3 separate regions of the Homo sapiens genome follow, and all the other regions are linked to region 1. Evidence: fine-mapped expression QTL. A gene starts in region 1. Each other region holds a variant in brackets. All regions are shown on one strand. Distances are between the middles of the regions.

What was found. PIP is the estimated chance that this variant, and not a neighbour inherited with it, causes the effect. A credible set is the group of variants that fine-mapping cannot tell apart.
Region 2: its variant is the best candidate, but not a certain one, in a credible set for the expression of CPE in monocytes (TOPMed, PIP 0.77).
Region 3: its variant is the best candidate, but not a certain one, in a credible set for the expression of CPE in blood mononuclear cells (TOPMed, PIP 0.73).

Annotation. Positions count from the first base shown.
Region 1 is chr4:165,372,678-165,383,586 of GRCh38, reverse strand. CPE (carboxypeptidase E) reads right to left here and starts at 4,579. Exons shown (of 9, transcript NM_001873.4): 1 at 4,059-4,579. The coding sequence starts at 4,365. RefSeq lists an enhancer at 2,263-2,807 and a silencer at 4,287-4,546.
Region 2 is chr4:165,344,776-165,351,672 of GRCh38, reverse strand. LOC105377519 (a long non-coding RNA gene) reads right to left here and starts at 3,478. Exons shown (of 3, transcript XR_939416.2): 1 at 3,058-3,478. RefSeq lists an enhancer at 1-225 and a silencer at 5,342-5,636. The variant A/G (reference allele first, on the strand shown) is at 3,926.
Region 3 is chr4:165,352,720-165,360,894 of GRCh38, reverse strand. The region is part of intron 2 of LOC105377519 (a long non-coding RNA gene); the gene reads right to left. Among named protein-coding and RNA genes, the nearest start is that of CPE, 22 kb to the left of the region's middle. The variant C/T (reference allele first, on the strand shown) is at 4,730.

The sequences.
Region 1 (10,909 bases):
GAAAAATCCTGCTCTAAAGAATGTTTTTGAGATAGCGTTTTAGCTATAAATCAGATTTACTTCCCAAAAGCTATCTTGAACTACGTGTAAAAGAAATAGTGTTTTAAGCAAATTAATCTTAACTCATATTTAACTCCGGGTCGAGTGGTCTGGGAACACAGAATCCATTACTTAGACATAAGTTAATAAAGGTTTCTTTTATGAGTACTGTATTTCGATGATGGATATACATGCCTAGGAAGGCATATGTTTGGGTTTGAATACGTGAGTCCTTAAGCATGGAAATAAGAAAAAAGTATAAAATCTAAGTAAAAGGAAAGAAAAACGGGAAAAATGATCATGCCTAGCAGGTATGATATCTAATGGGGACATATTTGAGCACTTAGAATCAGCCCCTAGCCTAGTCTAAGCCCATTCTTCATCCCAGTTCCAAATGGGCCACAAACACTAACTCCCAGTGTAGAGGAAACCCATCTGGGGTCCAGACTTAACAATGTCTGAAAAGATGAGACCAATGACAGGACCATTTGTGATTCTGCTTATTGAAATTGGCTGCTACTCGCAACTCTCTTTCAATAGATTTTTGCAGACCTCAGAAGTGATACAAAATGATGACTGAGACCCAACATTCAGCTGGTCAACAATCAAGCTGATTCCTAAGATGTCATCACAGAATAGGTTTGGCTATTCCTCAATGACCAATTCAAAATGGAATTTGCTTTGCCTTTTGATGAATTCAAAAGTTGAACATCTTGCAAAGAAAGTCATTTTCAGGAGATAACCTCAACTACACCCCATGTCCTGTACCAAGCATGTATAAAGATCACTTCTTTCTGCTCAGGAAGAGAGCTAATTGTATCAACAAACATCTCTGTCCAAAAACTGCTAGTCTAACAAAGTAAACCTCTAGCTTGCTTATTCTACCACAAGAAAGGGCTTTTTGTGGGTATGTTGTTGTATTTTCTTGGAGTTCTTCTGTTACGACAACTAAATCCTTAGAAATCCACTGTTTTTTTAATGTTCAGGAAAAGAATCTAGATTAAGAAAACTAATCAACAAATCTGACACCTCTCTTGCTGGAAAATAAAACAAAAGTGAGCAATTTCACCTCAAAATTTCAGTCAAGTAAACACATTTCTTAAGTTCAATATTATTTCCTAAAGCTGAATCAGAAAGGTTATTTCAAACCAAAAAATAAGGTACTTAAAAGGTGAAAATAGTAAAGACAATTGGCCCTTTTTCAAAAGCAGGGGTCCTAGTGAAGACAGATATCTATACCAGCTATTTTGGAATTTGTAAATGTCAACAAACTGTACATTTCCTGTCTTTTGTCATCAATTCTTCAATAATCCAGTCTCCCTGACCTGCTGACCTACTGTCTTTTGTCATCAATTCTTCAATAATCCAGTCTCCCTGACCTGCTGACCTACTGTCTTTTGTCATCAATTCTTCAATAATCCAGTCTCCCTGACCTGCTGACCTTACTGTCTTTTTCTCCAGTCCTCCCAAAGCCGATCTTGCAGCCTCACATCCCTTTATGCTGTTCTTCAAGCTCCCAATTCTCTATTGCCCTCAGGGCAAGCGACTATCTTCTGTGTTATCTTCTATGGGTTGTGCAGAGGCACAACTCACAGACGCCTGGTCCACCTTGAGTATACAGGTGCTCAAAAAAAACACTGAATGAGCCCACTTGTACCTCAGAATAAGTATTCCTTTTTACTTCTTAAAATAGTTTAACCTAAAAGAAACTGAAAGGCCATTTAAGAATGGTGAACATTTTCCTTTTTCCAAACTTCCTTAAAGTTAATTCACACAAGCACCATCAAACTTGTATACTGATCAGATCTCTATATTTACTAGTTTCCTGAAGATCTCTAACCTCCTTGACGCTCATAAAAGGTGATGGAGGGGGATATCACCTTGTACTTTTGTTAGTGTTGGTTTATAATAGTTTATTTCTACTTTTAAAAATATAAGGGACACAGACATTTTGTATTCTATTAGTAATACCATAGACTTAGAGTCTCCTTCATTTAAAAAGGAATTGTAAAGTACATATTGTACAACACTTCCGAGTTTGTCTCTGTAAGAGGAATTCAATCAACGTATTTTGAATGTATGAAGAATAAAACATTTTATTTTAATACACTGTGTTATGCAGCTATTGATGGATTCATTTTTTCCACACTGCATATTCAGTATTTTTCCATAATGTAGATTATTTCATAATGTATATTCAAGCCCGCTGTGTGCCAAACATGAGCTGGGTGCTGGAATCAGGGTCCCCACTTCATACAGCTTGCAATCTAAAAGAAGGATTTGCAAACCTTGATGAACTATATATTCCAGATACTTAAGCAAAGAAATCATTGTTTTCATTTTCTAAAGCATATCACATTCTAACTGTAATATCACTTTAAAATTTTATTTCCAAATTTGAAACAACAAAAAGTTAAACATTAGCTTTCATATAATCTCTTGAAGTAACAACGCAAAAAACTCTGGGATCAATCTACAAAATAGAGTAACAAAGGGTTCTCATTAAGTAAGCAGCAGGAGACTCACAAATACTTACATTAGCTTTAACTGTGCCTAGGATATCTTGGCTTTGGTTATTGGATTTAGCTGAAAATCAGTTATCACATTTTAAATTTTTCCCTGTCTTCAGATAACAGTATGAAACTAAGTTTCAAAATGTCCAATCCTACATGCTGAATCCTGGTAGATAAGAGTAGTTAATATTAAATGTTTTCTAGGATCTGATCTTAGAATTTTGACAGCAAACTTACATGAACCTTTTTTTCTTATATTATTTGAAGGTAAGAAATATTTCCTGAAGATTTATTCTTGATCAACCCACCTACTATATATTTGAAGATCAAAATGTCTATTGATCACTTATTTTAATCTCTTCTCAGTTTGGTTCTTACGTATCATTATAAAACTATACTGGCCCTGCACTGAGAATTTTTAGCCTACTTTTCTTGCTTGCTTTGTCATTAAACAAAAATTAAGCATCCATCCCATGCTGATATTATTAGCACAGATTACTTTAGCTGTACCTTGATTATCAGAAGACCAGGCCCAAATTATTTCCTAAGCAGAAACATAACGAAAAAAGTCCCAAGAACATTTTTAAATACCTCTTTATTAATACTAAATGCATCACAATTAACATAAACCAAAAGGTGCTTTAATATACTCCTAGGAAAGACGAATACAGATGGTTATTTGGGAACATCAGTTGGAATAAAGACCCCATCACAAACTATTCATCTCAAATGGTTATAGCAGAGAAAATGGAATACTCCTTTTTCCTTGGAAAGGCCTTGTGCAGTTTCAAAATCTGGTTTCAAAAGTCAGAAACCACTTTTCACCCTGGTAGGAGGAGGGGCACCAACGTATCTTTATACACCACCACCCCAGATTGGCAATATCCCTAAGATTCCCCAAGCATCCACAGCAGCGAGTGTACCTAATACGTATACACACACAGGTAGAGATGGGTACACAGAGCCAATAAACTGGTCCTCTGGAAATTAGAGAAAACATGATAAATGACTCTTTCTCCCTCGTTCTCCTTTCCTCTCAATCACTGCCTTCTGCACCTTATCTTTCTACTCTTGTCAGCAAGGAAGACCAACCCCCCTTGCGGGGGACTCGCAATCATTCCTTTGGGTTTTTCACACAGCAAAGTGAGAGCGACCGCTGGGGTTGCGTGCGTCAGGATTTGTTTTTTCTGTATTGCTATCCCCCCCATCCCCCGCCACCCCAGCCTCCCAAGCCTATACTTACTAGAGGGTGGCCTAAGGTCTGGGGAGATGGGATTGGTGCTGGGGGGATGGGACGGGAAAGCAGAAATTGGGCCACTGGCGCTCTAAGTCGGGTTCTTCCCCATTTCCATCCCTCCCTCCACTTCCCACCTTCCACCTTAGATACCTTTTACCAAGAGGCACCCCTGGGCCCATCCCTCCCTCCTTCCCCCACCGCCACCAGTCCCACCCTCTGCCGCCCCCCTCCGGGATGCCCCCAGGGCTGTCAGGGGGCAGCGCCCTTACCAGGCTCATGGACGCCAGGGTTGTCGGACAGCTCGATGACCAGGAGCTCCCGGCCCTCGAAGCTGCGCCCCACCGTGTAAATCCTGCTGATGGCGGTGCACTGCAGCCACACGGACACGAGCGCCTCGCGCAGCTCGGGGTAGCGGTGGTACTCGAAGGAGATGCCGTCCTCTTGCTGCAGCCGCCGGCGCCGCCTCATGCCCGCCGCGGGCGCCCCGGGCTCCTGGGCTTCGGCGCCCAGGAGCCACCCGCAGGCAGCCAGTGCCCCGCACAGAGCCAGCAGCGCGCTGCCCCCTCGCCCGGCCATCGCTGCGCTCCGCCGCCGCCGGCCGTGCCTTCCTACGCGGGCGGCCTCTTTTGTCTGCCCGGCCCTGGGCTTAGCCCGCCGGCGCTGCTGGGGGCGGCAAGTTCCGCACCAGCCTCTACTCGCCTCACCTTCCCCGGCTGAATGAGTGTCAGCCCGCGCACTGGGGCCACCCAGAGGAGACGGGCAAAGCCGCGGCTCCACGGGCTGCACTACTGGCCGCGGAGCCCAGGGGAGCTGCAGGAGAAACCACTGCGAGGAGGGGGCCGGCGGAGAGACGGGCCGGCGTGGATCTGGGAGGGCTGCTGGCGTTATTTGCTGGCTCGGAACCACGTCAACAGCCAAATGGCGTCCGGGACGACGCAGGTGAAATGACAGCTAAGGTCCGGGGTTCGGGAACGTTACTGTCATTGAGACACCCATGACCCACCCACGTCACTGCGTATGGAAAAAATATTCTTGTATTGTTAGTGGAGCCTTTTAAAGGGACATCTATTCCAAGCCTACCAGTTTCCATCTTGATCCACCAAGAATTAGAGAATATTCCAGAAAAAAGGAAGTACTGGCAGCCACTTGCCATCTCCTGATGCGTCTTTCATAATTGTATCAAGAGTCAAAACACAAACCCAAGGGTTGGGTTTTCATTTATTAGAAGGTCTTGCTGGAAATCAGAACATTAAGTGCTTTGATTTAGAGGTTTAAGAGAATAGAAATGCTTTCTTCCAATTTGTAGATACTGTCCTTAATTGTATTTATGCACATTCCTAGATTCTTCCAGAAAACAAACAGACAAAATAAATAAGGCAATGTCATATGGCTGTGCCTGCACCAGCCCTCCTCTTTAATACTATGGGGAAAATAAGTACAACTCTGCTGATGCTTTAGACAAAGGATTTAGTTTGGCATTAAGATTAAATCCTGTTAAGAAAACTCTGATGATGACATGACACCTCCGTTCCTTTTGCAAAGCTATTGTAAAAATAAAAAATCATTTACAGCTTTAAATATCCACCCCTTAGTCGGGATTTATATTCCTGGAGCAATGTCTGGAGCAGATGTTACTCTAAAGAGGCTGCTGTTTGGATTCAGGGACAGCACAAATCTAAATTAATAAATAATCCATTGGGTATTGCAACCGAGCAGGAAAAGTGGACACCATGCGGGTAATTTTCCATGTTAAGCTTCTTTGTTTTTCTAAACTTGTTCATTCTTCACCTGTTTAACAATGCATTGCACATAATAAAAACTTTTACGTGGAAAAGGAGTTAGATATTTAAGTCATCTTATTGGATCAATAAATAAAAGCACAGACATGGTTGGTAAGGTGCTGCTGGAGGGGCTGGCTTTAAACACCCCTATGTACATATACTACAGCAGCATGGATCTTCTTTTTTTTTTTTTTTTTTTTTTTGCGTTTTCGGGGAGAAACTGTCACTGTAAACACATGGCACTCAAGTTGAATTGATGTGGATCCAGCCATTTTTTTTTTTGTCAATGTAGGCAGAGCTAAAAATTGTATATTTTCCACTATGACCAGTCTGTGCTTGATTACATGGTCCAGAAGTTTGAAATCAAACTTATAATTATATTTCTAAAACCATGCCCAAAACAGCAACCTTGGAAGCCTAGAAAAAAAAATTGAGTAGCTAAAACCAAATAACTTCAGAAGTAGGAGGTTAAGATTTTCATGTTAGCAATTTAGAGTAACCACACTAATTTGTGGCTAGGTGGGGCATACTGACTAGTAACTACACACATAAACAACATATTTTTCATTGAAGTCCTGTGTTGTTCCTTAGCTGTCTCTTTGAACAAAGGATATGCGTTCTATTTTCTCCAAAATAAAAAATTTTGGAATGAAAACTTGGTCTTTGAATTTCTGGGCTATTTTTAGGTGTAGGTCAGCTGTACCAACTTTACTGGCATATGTATTACTTGTTTGTGGCTTCATAGGCAATTATACAAAAGATTATATATCCACCCTGATTGCTGGATTTAAAAAATTTTATTTTGGAGAAAAAAAAATTGTAATGTGTAAAATCATGCCTACTATGTGGTCTCACTTGTTGGGCAGGGGGTTCTCTTTTACAGCTTAGTTGTTTGTTTCCCTAATCTATAAAATAAAAGGTTTGGATTTTTCACTCTCTAACGTTTGCTTGCAACAGAATCATGTAGAGAGTTTATAGAATGTGCAGATTCTTAAGCCCCTATGAATTCATCAGGTCTGGGGTGGGTTTCAGGTATTAACAAGCTTCTAGGTTTTAAAAAGAAGACCAGTCATTTCTGATGTTGATGTTTGATTGACAAAGACATTTTGAGAAATAATGTACTGTAGGTTTCCCACTGTCTCTTTCAGACCTAAAATGCTATGATTCTGGAAATTTTCTTTTTGAAGTGAATTCCTGCTCATTTGATAAATGGTGGCACTCCTCACATATTATTGGTCGTACTACATACACCAAGGCATCAGTTCAAATGAACTAAAATTTGGTCTTTGAATTTCTGAGCTATTTTAGGTATAGGTCAGCTGTATCAACTTTACTGGCGTATGGATTACTTGTTTGTGGCTTCATAGGCAATTATGTAAAAGATTATATACCCATCCTGATTGCTGGATTAAAGAAAAATCTTGTATGCCAAGTCTTTAATGTGTGTACACATAGTTAAATTTAGTATGCAATCTCCATTTCAAATCATGTGCACACATGCACACACAAGAAACAAAAAGAGAAAGAAAGAGCTGCTTTTTCTTCATGTCATTATAGGCATCCATAAGAGCATATTTAAACTCCCTAGGTCTCCCTCCACTTCTTGCTTCACCTCTATTATCTTTAAATTAAGAAACTATCTTTTTCTTTATCAATAATATTTTATTTCCTTCTTTCAAAGCCCTTCCTAAAATTCGTCTACTTCATAAAAATTTTGTGAACACATAGCTCTATATTCATCCTGATGTGTGCTGGTAAATGTCAGCTGTCTGGGGGGAAAAGTCTGACTTAGAATGTTTGCTAATTTCCATGGTTTAAATATTCCCACCATGGCTGATTTCAAACTACCAATGTTGTATCACTGAATACAGTGTTAGGAAGAGATATGCAGTAGCATGACATCATATAGTGTTGTGATGGGACAATTCTTTATACTCCTCCTTTGCAAGTGATGAAACTTAATTTCTTCCATCTGAGTGTAGGCAGGACTTAGTGGTTTTCTCATGAACATAACACAGCAAAAGTAATGAGATGATCTTCCAAAATTAGGTTATTAAAAAGACTGCAGCTCCCATCTTAATTGCTCTCTCATGCTTGTGTGTGCGCTCTCTCCTCCCCCTCTCCCTCTCTCTCTCCCTCCTTTCCTTCCCCCAGTCCCCCATCACTCCATCGCTTGTCTTGGGGAAGTTGTCTGCCATATTGTGGAGAGGCTTATATAGCAAGGAACTGAGGCATCTGGCAAACAGCCTGAGAGAAACTGACATCCTCGGTCTAGCATTCAGTTAAGAACTGAGGTCTGTCAACAACCATGTGGGTGGGCAGGGGCAGATCTCAGCCCCACCTGAGCCTCAAGAGGGCTCCATCTCTGACATCTGAGGTTTACCACAGCCACATTAGAGACTCTGAGCCAGAACCACCACTAATACATACATCTCCCCCATACAGATACAATAGACATAAATAACCTCAAGAACATCAAGGATAGAGTGATGTCAGCAAGATAGCAGAATAGGAAGTTCCAGCCCTCATTTCCCAACAGAAACACAGATTTAACAGTGATATAAGTAACAAATTAGCTTCATAAGAAGTTCAGGATTAAGTTAAGAAATTTCAGTACCCCAGACAAACAAAAAATCACAATCAGCCACACTGAAACAGATAAGAAAAGCTATTTCACTTTACCTGCGAGTACAACTCAGCACCAGAGAGACTACAATCCTTTCCTGGTGTAGGGAGGGCAGGGGATAGAGAGTAGGGTGAGCATCCAACATTTCTGGCCTTTCAGTACACCCCTCAAGGGGCTGGCTTCTGTTGTGCCTCTTACAGAGTGCTTAAAGACATGGCATAGTCCAGATGCCTGGGAAAGCTAGGAGAATGGGCACCTTCCCATGGCTGGCAAGGCTCGGAGAGATCTGTAGAAGGCATAGAACTAAGGCCTCTCCTTCAGGAAAGAAGGAGGAGTGGATCATGACTCTAATGTCCTGAGCCTTTCAGTGAGCTCCCTGAAGAGCTAGTTTCTATCTCATCTCATATGGAGCACAGATGAGACTGACATGGGAACCAGAGGGAGCAAGAGATTGCTAGTGCTGAAAAGAAAAGAAAGGAAAAGAAAAAAGAAAAGAAAAGAAAAAGACTGAACACCTGGATCAGGACCTAGGAACAAGACCCAGAAACTCTATCTGGGCTGTCTTTCCCTATCAAAGCCAGTTCATTAAGAGTGGAGAACATGTCATTAAGACATGGATGTCACATGTAAAGACATCAATGCAAAGCTACAAGTAACATGAAGAAACAGGAAAATAAAACGCAATCAAAAGAACAAAATAAATATACAACAACTGGCCCTAAAAAAATGGAGATCTATGAATTGTCTGACAAAGAATTCAAAATGATCATCTTAAAGTAGCTCAACAAGTTACAAGAGAACCCAGATAGACAACTAAACAAAATGAGGGAAATAACACATTAAATAAATGAGAATATTATGAAGAAATAGAAAAGATAAAGAAGAACCAAATGGAAATTCTGAGGTGAAAGAATGCAATAACTGAAATAAGAAATTCATCATAAGGGTTTAACAGCAGATTTGATCAAACAGAAGAATTAGTCAACTCCAAGACAGGTCATTTGAGATTATCCAGTCAGAGAAGCAAAAAGCAAAGAAAATCAAAAAGAGTGAAGAGAGTCTAAGGGAATTATCAGACACCACCAAGTGAACAAATATATTGATTATGGGTGTCCAGAAGGAGAAGAGAGAGACAAAGAAACATGGAAACCATAAAGAAAATACATACAATAGATAAAGAAAAAGAAATAAATACATACATACAAAAGAAAAAATAAGGGAATCAAAGCATATCACTACAAAAAAATCAGCAAAACACAAAGGAAGACAGCAACAGAGGAAAAGAGAGACAAAAGAACTACAAAACAGAAAATGACAAAATATCAATAGTAAATCCTTACCTATCGATAATGTAAATGTAAACGGATTAAATGCTCCAATAAAAGTACGTAGAATAGCTGAATGGATTAAAAAAATAATTATATGTTGTGAGCAGGAGGCATTCTTTAGAATCAAAGATACACATAGGCTAAAAGTAAAGAGATGAAAAAAGATATTCCATGCAAATGATAACCAAAAGAGATCAAGGATAACTATAATCATATCAAATAAAATAGAATTTAAGTCAGAAACTGGCATAGGAGGTCCCCATTATTTAATGATGAAAGGGATAAATCATCAAGAAGACGTAACAATTAAAAAATGTGGCACATATACACCATGGAATACTATGCGGCCATAAAAAATGATGAGTTCTTGTCCTTTGTAGGGACATGGATGAAGCTGGAAACCATCATTCTCAGCAAACTATCGCAAGGACAAAAAAACCAAACACCGCATGTTCTCACTCATAGGTGGGAATTGAACAATGAGAACACATGGACACAGGAAAGGGAACATCACACACTGGGGCCTGTTGTGGGGTGGGGAGAGAGTGGAGGGATAGCATTTGGAGATATACCTAATGTTAAATGACGAGTTACTGGGTGCAGCACACCAACATGGCAGATGTATACATATGTAAGTAACCTGCACGTTGTGCACATGTACCCTAAAACTTAAAGTATAATAAAAAAAATATATATATGCTCCCAACATTAGAGCACCAAAATATATAAAGCAAACATTGACAGGCTTGAAGGAAAAGTAGAGAGCAACACAATAAAATAGGGGACTTCATACCCTACTTTCGATAATTGATAGAACATTCAGACAGAAAATCAAAAAGGAAACAGCAGACTTGAACAACAGTATAGACCAAATGGACCTAAAAGACATATACATAACATTCCACTCAATAGCAGCAAAATACATTCTTCTCAAGTGCATGCAGAACAGTGTCAAATTCACATGTGATCACATGTTAGGCTATAAAATAAGTCTCAACAAATTTAAGATTGAAATCATACCAAATATCTTTTCTGACCACAATGAAATGAAACTAGAAATCAAAAACAAAAGGAAAACTGGAAAATTCACAAATATGTGGAAATTAAACATCACACTTTTAAATAACCATTGGGCCGAAGAAAAAAATCAAAGGATAAATTAGAAGATATTTCAAGGGGAGGGCACGGTGGCTCATGCCTATAATCCCGGCACTTGGCAAGGCCAAGGTGGGTGGACCACCTGAGGTAAGGAGTTCAAGACCAGCCTGACCAACATGGTAAAAACCCGTCTCTACTAAAAATACAAAATTAGCCAGGCGTGGTGGTGCATGCCTGTAATCCCAATTATTTGGGAGTCTGAGGCAGGAGAATCACTTGAACCTGGG
Region 2 (6,897 bases), 30 kb after region 1:
TATCTCTTGGGAGCTCTATGGCCCTGTCCACCACCTGAGAAACCTGAATACTTAAACAGGTGTCCCTAGGGCAAGTTCGTATCCTCCCTATAGGACCACAGCTGATGAGTTCTTGAAAGCGCCACCTCCTGGCTGGAGGCCAACCAACACAAAACCAGCACACTAAACAAAAACACAAGCAAGGACTTTCAACAGAGTCCACTTCACTCCCCTGCTACCTCAACCAGAGCAGGTGCTGGTATCCACGGCTGAAAGACCTGAAGACCAGTCACATCATAGGACTCTGCAGATGCTCCCCAGTACCAGCCCAGAGCCCGGTAGCTCCACTGGGTGGAGGTCACAAACAGTCACCACAGTTCAGCTCTCAGGAAGCTCCATTCCAAGGGGAAGGGGGAGAACACCACATCAAGGGAGCATACTGTGGGACAAAAGAATCTGAACAGCAGCCCTTGAATCTCGGATCCTCCCTCTGACATAGTTTACCCAAATAAGGAATCAGAAAAACAATTCTGGTAATATGACAAAACAAGGGTCTTCCACACCCCCAAAAGATCATACCAGCTCACCAGCAATGGATCCAATCCAAGATTAAATGTCTGAATTGCCAGAAAAGGAATTCAGACGGTCGATTATTAAGCCAATCAAGGAGGCACAAGAGAAAGGTGAAGTCCAACTTAATGAAATCAAAAACGTGATAAAGGATATGAAAGGAAATTTCTCTAATGAAATAGATAGCATAAATAAAAAACAGTCACAACTTCTGGAAATCAAGAACACATTTAGAGAAATGCAAAATGTACCGGAAAGTCTCAGCAATAGAATCAAACAAGCAGAAGAAAGAACTTCAGAGCTCAAAGACAAGGTTTTTGAATTAACCCAATCTGTCAAAGACAAAAGAATTTTTAAAAATGAACAAAGCTTCCGGCTGGGCATGGTGGCTTACTCCTGTAATCTCAACACTTTGGGAGGCTGACCCAGGCAGATCATCTGAGGTCAGGAGCTTGAGACCAGCCTGACCAACATGATGAAACCTCATCTCTACTAAAAATACAAAAAAAATACAAAAACTAGCCAGTTATGGTGGTGCATGCCTGTAGCCCCAGCTACTCGAGAGGCTGAGGCAGGAGGATCGCTTGAACCCAGGTTGCAGTGAGCTGAGATCATGCCACTGTACTCCAGCCTGGGCAACAGAGCGAGACTCCATCTCAAAAAACAAAACAAAACAAAACCTCCCACCACCAACAACAAAAAAAAACCTTGTAAGCTTTACTTAAAAATGTTTGCAACAATAAACTAAAATATCTACATTAGAACCATGGTAGCTGGAAGTATCATTAGAAATAATCCAGTTCAGGCTAGCTGTGGTGGCTCATCCCTGTAATTCCAACACTTTGGAAGGCCAGGATGGAAGGATAGCTTAAGGCCAGGAGTTTGAGACCAGCTTGAACAACATAGCAATACCACATCTCTAAAAAAAAAAAAAAAAAAAAAAAATTTTTTTTTAAATTAGCTGAGCATCTGAGCATGGTGGCACATGCCAGTAGTCCTAGCTACTCAGGAGACTGAGGCAGGAGGATTGTTTGAGCCCAAGAGTTCAAGGCTGCAGCCACCATGATCATGCCACTACACTCCAGCCTGGAGGACAGAGTGAAACCCTGTCTCAAAAAAGAGATATAATCCAGTTCAAATTCATCCTCATTTCATGATAAGTGCTTGAGGTGATGAATATGCTAATTCCCCTGATTTGATCGTACACATTCTATACAACTATATCATGAAATATCATACTGTACCCCATAAATACATATGATTATTATGTATCAATTAAAATTCATTTTTAGGCCCAGTGCAGTGGCTCATGCCTGTAATCCCTGCACTTTGGGAGGCTGAGGCAAGTAGATCACTTGAGGTCAGGAGTTTGAGACCAGCCTGACCAATATGGTGAAACCATTTCTCCACTTAAAAAATACAATAATTAGCCCTGGGAGTGGTGGTGCACGCCTGTGGTCCTAGCTACTCATGAGCCTGAGGTGGGAGAATCTCTTGAACCTGGGAGGAGGAGGTTGCAGTGAGCCAAGATTGTGCCACTGTACTCTGGGCAACATATCGAGACTCTGTTTCAAAATAAATAAAATAATAAAATAAAATTTATTTTTAGAAATTCATCCTCATTTTAAGGATCTCTTTCGTTATATACTGACTAAGAATCCTATAGTTGCTGCCTAAACCATCAATGAAGGGGAAGATAACTAGCTCTAATTTTAAGAAAGTTCTTCCAAAGTTTGAATTTTTAAACAGCAAACACCTAGAACTTTATTTCCTGATACACTTATGCTTTCTGGGGCAATAATGAATGACTCACCCTCTTTTACATAATATCATTTCAGACATTTGAACACACCTTTGATATTTCTATTTAGTCCTCTTTTCTCTGACCAGTTCTGTCTAATGGAACTTTCTGTAATGATGGAAATGTTCTATAATCTGTACTCAGAGATGTCAATGGCCACATCAGCTCATGACTACTGTACTGGACAGAGCTGCTCTAGACTATCCCTCTGTTTCCTTAAATTATCTTGTGTAATTACTGCTAGACCTTAAGCAATTCCTTGCTGGACACAGTGGCTCATGACTGTAATCCCAGCACATTGGAAGGCTAAAGTGGGTGGATCACTTGAGGCCAGGAGTTCAAGACTTGTCTGGACAACATGGCAAAACCCTGTCTCTACTAAAAATACAAAAATTAGCTGAGTGTGAGGGTGTGTGCCTGTAGTCCCAGCTACTTGGGGGACTGAGATATGAAAATCACTGGAACCCAGGAGGTGGAGGTTGCAGTGAGCTGAGATAACACCGCTGCACTCCAGCCTGAGCAATACAGTGAGACTCTGTCTCAGAAACAAAAACAAACACAAAATAACAACAAAAATCCTGATTACTCTCTTGTCTCCTGTGGATGTTAGTCATATATGATGCACTAAGCATAATATGCTTTTCCACCCGTAACCAACCAAAGCAGAATAAAAGGAGATCACTGTCTTCTCTGTAATTTAGGCTTACCTTTAATAATTTAGCGTACGGTTGTCTTAAGTTGTGGGGAAGTGAGCACTTGTAGTCCACTAAAATCCTTACGGCTCTTGGGTATGTATCGCTGTTAATCCTGGTTATGTTTCCTCTCCTCCATTTGTGCAGCTGAACTTTTAAATCAAGGCAAACATTTTGCAGGATCTTGATTCTGTCCTGTAGAACAAAGTGTCAGTTGCTGTTTTTCTTCTGCCTCAGTATTAAATTTGATAAGCTTGGCAGCAGTGGCCTTATCTAGGTCAATGATAAACATGTTTAACAGGACAAGGCTACAGGCAAAGCCTCAAGTCACAACACTAGAAACTCTCCTTGGTCAAGAGAATTTGGATTCACTTGCTGAACCAGGTAAGACTCTAACTACATTTCTGGTCCAAAGTGGACAATTGACAAAGGAAGTAGTCACGCTCTTGATTGTGTAGTGATCAAATGGATGTAACCATTCATCAAGCTGTGTGCTTTTCTGGTGTGTTTGTATGGTGTGGTTCCATTAAAAATTAAATACCCTGGTATTGTGTAATACTAAAAGCCAGCATTTCAATTTCACTTCAAAACTCTATTACAAAGCCTTTAGGCCACAGGTCCCTTTTCCAACTCTGTAGAGCCACACTTCCCAAGGGGCAGATTTATTCTTTGGAGAAATGGAACAGAAGAGGCTCAAGACTCTCCTGATGCTGAGGAGGCCTTGGGTGAGCTAGGCAGGTGGCAGAAGAGGGATTCTGTGAAAGGGAACCCACTCAACTGTCAGATCCTGTCTCCTCCCACATATGTGATTCCCAGCATGAAGACATATGAGCAGTTTCTGCCCCAGACAGTGATTAGAAGATTTTTTTGAAGAAACTGAACC[A/G]AACCCACAGAAAAATACTTAACAAAGTTGGAAAAGATTGACTGGCTGCCTGATCATCTATGGCTTTACAATCACATTTACAAATTCTTTCTGTCACCTGGAATGCAAGTTATCTGACTTTGGAGACTTAAAAGTTTATTTAAGGACAGGCGCGGTGGCTCACACCTGTAATCCCAGGACTTTGGGAGGCCGAGGTGGGTGGATCACGAGGTCAGGAGATCAAGACCATCCTAGCTAACACGATGAAACCCTATCTCCACTAAAAATACAAAAAATTAGCCAGGCATGGTGGCACACACCTGTAGTCCCAGCTACTCGGGAAGCTGAGGCAGAAGAATTGCTTAAGCCCAGGAGGCGGAGGTTGCAGTGAGCCGAGATAGCGCCACTGCACTCCAGCCTGGGTGACAGAGCGAGACTCCATCTCGAAAAAAAAAAAAAAGTTTATTAAAATGTATGAAACACTTTGCTAAAAATTTCCTCCTCTTTGGGATTTGCTTCCCTTTGAACGGGGCTAGTTTGTTTCCTTTTCCAACTTGAAGATCATTTTCCTGTGACATAGAAATGCAAAAATTAGGTAGCTCAGCCTCCCATTCTAATATGTTAATGGTATATTACCTACTCCTGGGCAGTGACCAATTCCTTATTCTTCTACCTCTATACCATCATGATATTTTATTATTATCAGATGAATTATTTTATAGCAAAAAAAATCTCAGAGAACCTTCATGGAATACAAGAGGTCTGATTGAAATCTGCCAACAGACTAAATAGTTCTAAATTTTCTTTATTAGCTGGACACGAACTCAAACGGACATGAACGTGCTCTGATACATAATTTGTTCCTTCAAAGAGCATATCAAGCTGCATATCCCACAAGAACATGACCAGTGAAATCAAACTTTAAGATGCCAAAGCATTAGAATGTAGCCAGACTTCAACTGAACCCGGCAGCCCCTGCACCTGGTTCTGGCTCTGGCTTGTATTTCAAGAACCCTCTTCTTTCCTTGTCTTCTCCTTCCCCATCATTTGCTGTTAATTACTAAAAACCTTCTGAACTGATTACTAAAATGGCAGCTTAATTGTCACTCCTATATTATGATGTTATTACAATGTCCTCTCTTCGTTTTAATTGACAGATATTTATTGAACTCCTACCATGTTCAAGGCAAGGTGCCAGGTATACATACCAAGGGAGAAAATACACACAGTGGGAAGATCTCAGCTCTGCAGTCAGCTTTGCCATGAACTACCCGCGTGCCTTTGACCATGTTAATAACATTCACTGGCTGAAGGTTAGGCATGAGCAAATGTGCAGAAGAACGAAAGCACACGGTGCAAAAGAGAGATCTTTGGCTAAAAAAGAGGTAGCAATACAATTTGCAAATGTGATTGTAAAACCATTTTAAATAATCAGGCAGCAAGTCAATCTTTTCAAACTTTGGATGTATTTTTCTGTGGGTTGGGTTCAGTTTCTTCAAAAATATCTTCCAATCTCTGTCTGAAGCAGAAAACACAAGGTGGCGTATGCTGAGAGGTGGTAGAGATGAGTGTTACAGAACTCTGAGTGAGGGAGAGTGGGAGAGATTTCTCTAATCTGAAGCAGAAATAAGACCTCAGAAAGAAGAGTGGGGCTGATGGAGTGGTGCGGTGAGTCTTGAACCGGATCTTTAAATAAAGGGAGGGAATTTAAAAAAAATAGCTAACATTCATTACACGCATCGCATACTTCACATGGTGCATCTTACTGAATCCTCACAAACCGCCCATGAAGTATTATTATCCTCATTTCATAGATGAGGAAATAGCTCTCCAGAGAGAGGAGGGGGAAAGGCTTTCCAGGGAGTGAGCCAATCACCAGGAGCCAAGGAGCTTCATAATGCAAGGGAGCAAGACCGGCTGGCAGGGCATACATGGCAATCTCTCCTGTTACTATCCCAGCAGTGCTGGTTTCAGCATCCTATACGCAGCTTGCAGGTTAGTTATCCCATGTTCTCATTCCGTCATGGTCCCTTTCCTTTTGTGAGTGCACAATAAGCAGCCTGTGTCCCTGAGTTGAATTACTTATCTTCCTAATAGTTTGAAAGTAACATTTCCTATCTTAGATTCTAGCCATTCATGTCCTTTTTCTTTAGACTTTTAGAATGCAACAGACCTCTAAGCATATGTACTAAAGACATTTTACCATGGCCCTCTGATGATTTCATGTAAGAATGTCAACATTTGGCAGTCACTTGCAGAGACAGCATTCATTAGACTAATAGCATGCTACTCTTTCTAACATTGGCTGAAAAATTCTATTCTTTTGCAAGAATGGATTAGGAGCTAAACCTTCAGAAACAAGGTGCTCACTCTTCAGGAAGAGCTTAGATACTATCTCTCTCTGTGGAAATACAGAACTTAAATGTGGAATTAAAAAGCCCTACTAGGCCAAGCACGGTGGCTCACGCCTGTAATCCCAGCACTTTGGGAGGCTGAGGCGGGCGGACCACGAGGTCAGGAGTTCAAGACCAGCCTGGCCAACATGGTGAAGCCCCGTCTTTACTAAAAAATACAAAAAATTAGCTGGGCGTGGTGGCGGGCACCTGTAATCCCAGGTACTCAGGAGGCTGAGGCAGGAGAATCGCTTGAACCCGGGAGGTGGAGGTTGCGAGGTTGCAGTAAGCCGAGATTGTGCCACTGCACTCCAGCCTGGGCGACAGAGCAAGACTCTATCTAAAACAAAACAAAACAAAAAAACCTACTAGGTTTTATGTAAGAGCATGAGAATTAGAAGTTGGGGTAAGAGTCTCCACAGAACCAATCTTGTCCAAAGGTCTACATGTCGTTAGCCAAATATGTAGCAAAGAGTAAAATACTAGTTAATTATAATTCTAAGCATACTCTACTACTAATTTTTAAATTATAATATTAACTAAACTTTTAAACAATTAGTAAAAATCCAAATAGATAATCCAAGAAACAAAGGGTATCTC
Region 3 (8,175 bases), 21 kb after region 1:
ACTCTGTGCTAGTCATCGGCTTTAATCTTCCACCTACTTACCATATGCTACAAATAAGAAAAATAGAGTTTAGAAACATTAAATAACCTGTGCAAGTTCATATAAATAGGAAATAGTGAAGACAGGGTGGCAGGAAAACAGCATTATTTCCATGGTGTACTGGAGGGCTTTCCATTCATTCATTCAACAAACTTTTATTTAGGACCTAGTAAATGCCACGGGCTCGGCTTTTACTGAGTAAGATGTGGTCAGAAAGGAATATGAAATTGATTAAGTTGTAGTTCCTACCAGGGAAGTATTCAGACCTCCCTCTCCAGGCTGAAGAAACAAGATTGCCTCATCCAGTGATAAGCACATTCCCTGTCTAGAACCAATCATCATGCAGAGGAGAGTTTATTTCAATTGGGATTTAGCAGAAGTGAGGGCTGGGAAAAACATATGCTTTTAAGAAGTGATTTTTGGAGTATTTTGAACACTCTGAAAACAATACACAGCAGGTCCTTGAATTATGTCATTTTGTTCCAACATTGATGAGAAAGAAAAATGATTTCCAGCTGGAGCCAGCCAACATCTGTGGAGAGTTTGCACGTTCTCCCTGTGTCTACGTGGGTTTTCTCTTGGTAGTCCGGTTTCCTCCCACATCCCAGAGATGTGCATGTTGATTTGATTGATGTGTCTACATTGTCCCGGTCTGAGCCAGTGTGGGTGTGTGTATGAGTGTGCCCTGCCATGGAATGGCATCCTGGCCAGTGGGTTCCCACATTATGTCCTGAGCTGCTGGGACAGCCTCCAGCCACCTATGACCCTGAAGTGAAATAAGCAAGTAAATAATCTTACTTTTTAAAATTAATCTTTCCTAAATGTACATATAGCTCACAATTTTTTCCGTGTTTAATATTAGAAGTGTTTGGGGTCTTTATTTAGAAGCTCGTGGTGGTTTTATGACCAGAAGTATGCTGTAGGAACTTAACTCTTGTTTATATCAATTAGCTTATGGTAAAATTAGTTTCTTTATATGTCATTTTGTTTAAAGTTGCAGTTTCCAAGACCTACTGATGACATTAAATGAGGACTAATTGTATAATGAATGTTCAATAACTAGATTGGTTAAATAATTAATGAATTGACAGATTCAGAACACACCACACCCCAGCTCCTTGGGACACTTATGGCAGGAAGTGTTACCAAACACAATGAGTCATTAATACTGTGTGGTTGGGTAAAAAAATTAGGTTCGGCTGCCACATTGCTTAAAATTGTTTAATAAAGGATTCTTCCAAGCTTCAATTTTTTTAACTTGTTCTTTCTGTTTCCTTGCCTCGGCAAACCAATATTTTGGCTCCTTGAGTTTTCTTATATTTTATTTACTACTTGCAGAAACCCTAACAACCCCACCACCATCCCTACTTGAACTTGGTTTTAGCTCTTCCTGGGAACTAGCTTCTTATCTCCTTAGCTTGTTCAGGCTGACTCCCAATACCTATGCTAGTTCATTAGCGATTTAATAAATCCACTCCTAGGTATCTACCACTAACCCATGCTTGTCCAGACAGCCAACAAGTGCTGTGCCAAAAGCACCATCAAAATAAATGGCACAGGCGAGGCACAGTGGCTCACGCCTGTAATCCCAACACTTCGGGAGGCCGAGGTGGGTGGATCACTTGAGGCCAGGAGTTCGAGGCTAGCCTGGTCAACATGGTGAAACCCCATCTATACCAAAAAATAGAAAAATTAGCCAGGCGTGGTGGTGTGCACCTCTAGCTACTCGGGAGGCTGAGGCACAAGAATCGCTTGAACCCAGGAGGTGGAGGTTGCAGTGACCCGAGATTGCACCACTGCACTCCAGCCTGGGCGACAGAGAGAGACCCTGTCTCAATAAATAAGTAAATAAACAAATAAATGGCACAAATGGTGCCTTGAACTGATAGGATTATGCAGGAGAGGAAATAGAGGACAGGTGAGGGTTAGTCACACAGGTTTGCTGATGGAAACAAGCCACAAAGCTCTATGGTCTTCCTTCCACTTCTCTTGCTTCTTGTGCACAGCATTGCAGCAGGGCAGCCTCCCTTGTCTAAAAAGCTTCAGAAACAAACTCCAAAGCACATAATGACCTAGCTTTGCACATTTCTCCAACTTGTCCCGCCATCTCTGCATCCTCTCCAATCATACAATCTTCTTTCAGTATCTGGTTTATTCTATTCTCTGTCTTGCCAGCAGATCTTAGCATATTTTGTTGCCTTTACTTGAATCACTCTTCCCCTCTGTCCCCCTTCATTTCTGGTTAGCTTTTAGTTGTCCTTCTGGTCTCATGGTACACATTATTTCCTCTGGGAGCTTTGTCCTAACAGCTTCCATTAAGCAAAAAAGATACTGTTGCTATGTGATCTCAGAGTTCCTTAAGCCTCTCTCACGTTTCAGAGGTTTTTAATAATTACTTATTTCATTGTCCATAATCTCCCCTGTACTATAAATTGTGCGAGGGCTGGAATCTTGTCTCTCAAGGCCCCTAGTGTACCCTAGCACCTAGCAGCATTTGACACATAATGGAAAACTAAGTAAATATTATTGATTGAATGAATGAATACATAAATTCTTAGAGATCAAGCTATGCTCCTCAGTTGACATCTGATATGCTGCTATTTAAGTCGAACCTCAACAATTCAAAAATAACTTGCTCAAAATCTACACTCATTAAGCTGCAACTCCTTCCATAATTGCGGGAAACAGTTGATGGTTGTGGCTTAATGCAGGTATGAGAGCAATGTTGCTGGGCTTGATGAAGAACCCATCACCACTACCTACTCCTGCCAGTTTATATGGAGATACAGGTTGTAACCAAAGAAACCTGGAATGCAACAGTACTGACTTCGAAGTCCTGAGTAGATGAATTAGACTTGGTTTATTGCAACTAAACTAAATTTAAATGGCTTAAATAAGAAGGGAAGGGAAGGGAAGGGAAGGGAAGGGAAGGGAAGGGAAGGGAAGGGAAGGGAAGGGAAGGGAAGGCAATGCCTGTAATCCCAGCTACTCGGGAGGCTGAGGCAGAAGAATCACTTGAAACCAAGAGGCAGAGGTTGCAGTGAGCCAAGACCACGCCACTGCACTCCAGCCTGGGTGACAGAGCAAGACTCTCTTTCAAAAAAGGGAAGGGAAGAAGGAGAGAGGCAGGGAGGGAGGGAGGGAGGGAAGGAGATTCACTATTTCAGTAAGACCAAGAAAATGCTTCATGACTTATTTCTAATTGGCTCCTTGTTTCTGAAGGACAACCACTTTCCCCTAACACCCGGTGGCCAGGATTAGATGTTAATCACTGCTGATTTCTTAGTCTGGGACTCTTCAGTAAAGAATGAAAGCTGTAAAGCAGGCATGCTGCCCTATTAAAAAGGAATTTTCTCAATAGCCAGTTCTCAGAATACTGTTGCCATCCTGTTGCTCATCCCCACTGCCCTGAACTAGCACATTCGAGAATAATTCTTAGTCTTCATAGTCTTGTCTGAGGAACGCTTTCTAATATGTGAGTTTTGTGCAGAACCCAGGGATGGCTAGAGAAAACCCTTGATTAAATGGTAAAAATAGACCGGAGATGGTGGCTCAAGCCTGTAATCCCAGAGCTTTGGGAGGCAGAGGCAGGCAGATCACTTGATGTCAGGAATTCGAGATCAGCCTGGCCAATGTGGGGAAACCCTGTCTCTACTAAAAATACAGAAATTATCTGGGTATGGTGGCACATGCTGTAATCCCAGCTACTCAGGAGGCTGAGGCAGAAGAATCACTTGAACCCAAGAGGCAGAGGTTGTAGTGAGCCAAGACCACACCACTGGACTCCAGCCTGGGTGACAGAGTGACACTCTCTCAAAAAAAAAAAAAAAAAAAAAAGGTAAAAATAAACTGGAATAGAATGAAAAAACAAAACCATGAAAAGATCATTCATTTGGGTAACCTAAATTGTCTGGGGGGAAAAGTCAGCTGAACCACTTAGTCCCGGGTTATTTATGCTTTCCATCCAGCACAGCACTCCTCACAGCAGGAAAATCACTCTTGTTTTTGAGGTGTTATAACAGATGTTACATGATAAGAGATTATTCATTTGAATGAAAATCAGAAAAAACTGATAAAATAGCTGATAAAAATCATTTTAATGTAAAATTCCCAAATTGAAAAAATGTAAAAGTTTTTGTTCTTAACACAACCATTAAAAGTTGTATACTGTGAACTAATGGATATTTTAAGTTTAAACATATATTTGGTAGTTATATCAAATTATTTTTATATATTGCATATATCTACCCATCACATTTTACAGGAAAAAAATTGGCAAACCTGTAATAATCAGTGTGTGCATGGGAAAATAATAGTTTCCAGTGAAAAAGATCTGCACTGGTTCTCAGATTTTCCATATTCTTGGGTCCAACTGGCTGGCAGTCTATTTTTAAAATACTAATTAAGTAATTCAGAAAATTAAGCATCATTTGCTTTTTTAAAAATTTGTTGGTTTTTTGTTGCTGTTGTTTCTGATATGAGTTGGGCACTCTGCTGTTTGGTGTGTTTTTCTTTATGGCTGTGTTTCATTCTTAAAAGTTTGCAAGAGGAGCATCATTATTCCCATTTTATGTACAAGGAAACAGAGATTCACTTGAGTGACGTGTCTAAGGGCACACAAGTAAGTCACACAGTAAATGGCAGAGTTTGACTCCACACTGAGGTCTAAGTAGTTCCTGTGCTCAGTCTT[C/T]GGGCCTCACAGCTTCAAGCAAAATACTGCCACCAGCTGGTGAGTGAACTATTGCCAAATGCTGAATTTGCTCTCCAGTGGTCTCAGCTCACAGCCCCCTTAAAAAAAAAAAATAGTCTGTCTGTCACAGGAAGGAGATTCAAACTCTGAGTAGATAACTAAACTAAATGACTTTTAAGGTCATTGAGGACACAGAATTATTATGCAATGTCTTTGCCTGTCTCAGAAAATCACATTGCCTTCCAGATAAGTGTTCAAGCTAAGAAGAGATAGAAAAAAAAATCTTCCTTCTGTATTACAGTCTTAGAGAATGGGATGAGCTATTTGTAAGTAAGCATTATTCTAGCATCTCTGATCTTACAATTAAGGAAATCATGTCCATATTGTTTGTTATAGGCTGAATCGTGTCTCCCAAAACGATGTTGAAGTCCTAACTCCAACCCCCACTCTCTGTGAATGTGATCTTATTTGGAAAAGGGACCTTTGCAAATGATCGAGTTAAGATGAGGTAATACGGGTGGGTCAATATGACTGTTGTTTTTATGAAAATGGGAAATCAGGACACAAAGAAAGATAGACATAGAGAGAATACGGTGTGAACATGAAGGCAGAGACCGGGGTAATGCATCTACAAGCCAAGAAATGCAAAAGGCATGCCAGCAAACTATTAGAAGCTAAGAGGGGCCGGGCGCAGTGGCTCATGCCTGTAATCCCAACCCTTTGGGAGGCCAAGGTGGGTGAATCACCTGAAGTCAGGAGTTTGAGACCAGCCTGGCCATCATGATGTAACCCCATCTCTCCTAAAACTATAAAAATTAGCTGGGCATGGTGGCAGGCGCCTGTAATCCCAGCTACTCAGGAGGCTGAGGCAGGAGAATCACTTGAAACCAGGAGGCAGAGATTTCAGTGAACGGAGATCATGCCATTGCACTCCAGCCTGGGCAACAAGAGCAAAACTCTTTCTCAAAAAAAAAAAAAAAAAAAGGAATGGAAAAAGAAATATAGAAGCTAGGAGGGAGGCATGAAAAAGATTTTCCCTCAGAGACTTGAGAAGGAGCTAACCCTGCTGACACCTTGATCTCACTTTTGGCTTCCAGAACTGTGAGACGATACATTTCTCTTGTTTAAGCCATCCAGGTTGTTGCTTATTGTTATGGCAGCCCTAACAAACTAATACACTGCTAACTGTTTGCCTTTTTGTTTTTTAAACAGCTTTATTGAGGAATAATTCATGTACCATGCAATTTGCCCTTTTAAAGTATACAATTCAATGTCTTTTAGTATATTCATAGGGCCATGCCACCATCACCACAATCTAATTTTAGAACATGTTTAGCTCCCCTAAAAGAAACCTGCTAGTGGATAAGCAGTCAGTCCCTATTCTTCCCTCCTAAGCCCCAACCCCCAGCCCTAAGCAACCGCAAATCCACTTTCTGTGCCTATAAATTTATCTCTTTTGAATAATTTATATAAATGGTATCATATATATAATATATGGTCTTTTGTGACTGACTTCTTTCTCATAGTATATTCAAGGGTCATTCGTGCTGTAGCATGAATCAGTACTGTATTCATTTTATGGCTGAATGACATGCCATTGTATGAGTATTCCATATTTTTTAATTCATTCATTAGTTCAAGGGTTCCCAATCCCCGGGCTGTGGACCAGTACCCATCATGGCCTGTTAGGAACCAGGTCACACAGCAGGAGGTGAGTGGTGGGTGAGTGAGCATTACCACCTGCGCTGCACCTCCTGTCAGATCAGTGGTGGCATTAGAGTCTCACAGGAGCGCAAACCCTACTGTGAACTGCACATGCAAGGGATCTAGGTTGTGTGCTCCTTATGAAAATCTAATGTCTGATGATCTGAGGTGGAACAGTTTCATCCCAAAACCACCAACCCCCACCCCGTCTGTGAAAAAATTGTCTGCCATGAAACCGGTCCCTGGGGCCAAAAAGATTGGGGACCACTGGATTAGATGATAGACATTTGGAGTGTTTCCTCTTGTTGCTATTATGAATAATGCTACTATGAACATTCATGTACAATTTTTGTGTTCACATACATTTTCATTTCTCTTGGGTATATACCTAGGAGTGGAATTGCTGGGTCCTATGGTAACTCTATGTTTAATATTTTGATGAACCGCCAAACTCATTTCAAAGCAGCTGCACCATCTAACATTCCCGCCAGCAACATAGAAAGGTTCCAACTTCCCCACATCCTTTCCAACACTTGCTATTGCTTATCTTTTATATTACAGCCATTATCATGGGTGTGAAGTAACATCTCATTGTGGTTTGGGCTTGTGTTTCCCTAAAGAGTAATGATGTTGAGCAACTTTTAATGTACATATTGGCTGTTGGCTGTTTGTATATTTTCTTTTTTTTTTTGAGATGGAGTCTCGCTCTGTTGCCCAGGCTGGAGTGCAGTGGCACAATCTTGGCTTACTGCAATCTCCACCTCCTGGGTTCAAGCAATTCTCCTGCCTCAGCCTCCTGAGTAGCTGGGACTACAGGTGCCTGCCACCACACCCAGCTAACTTTTTGTATTTTTAGTAGAGATGGGGTTTCACCATATTGGCCAGGCTGGTCTCGATCTCCTGACCTTGTGATCCACCTGCCTCAGCCTCCCAAAGTTCTGGGATTATAGGCGTGAGCCACTGTGCCTGGCTGGCTGTTTGTATATTTTCTTTGGAGAAATGTCTATTCAAATCTTTTTTTTTTTTTAAGTTTTACTTTAAGCTCTGAGATACATGTGCAGAATGTGCAGGTTTGTTACATAAGTATATATGCGCCATGGTGGTTTGCTGCACCTATCAACCCATCATCTAGGTTTTAAGCACCGCATGCATTAGGTCTTTGTCCTAATGCTCTCCCTCCCCTTGTTCCCCAACCCCCCAACAGGCCCCAGTGTGTGATGTTCCCCTCTCTGTGTCCATGTTTTCTCATTCTTCAGCTCCCACTTATGAGTGAGAGCATGTGGTGTTTGGTTTTCTGTTCCTGTGTTAGTTTGCTGAGAATTGGGTTATCTCTTGTTGTTATTATTGAGTTTGAGTTCTTTATATATTATGGACACAAATTCTTTATCAGATATAGGATGTGCAAATATTTTCTCCCATTCTGTGTATTGTCTTCAGTTTCTTGATGGTATCATTTGCAGCACAAAATTCTTCACATAGTCCATTGTATTCATCATTTTATTTTGTTGCTTGTATTTTTGGGGTCATAAATAAGGGATCATTGCTAATCCAAGGCAACTCCTTCACTTCCTTCTAAGAGGGTTATCAATTTTGCTTTTACATTTAGTGCTATCATCTGAGTTACTTTTTTGTGTATGGAGTGAGGTAGATCTATAATGTCATCCTTTTGCATGTAGATGTCCAGTTGTTCCTTCACTATTTGTTGAAAATACTGTTCTTTACTCCTTAAATTATCTTGGAAC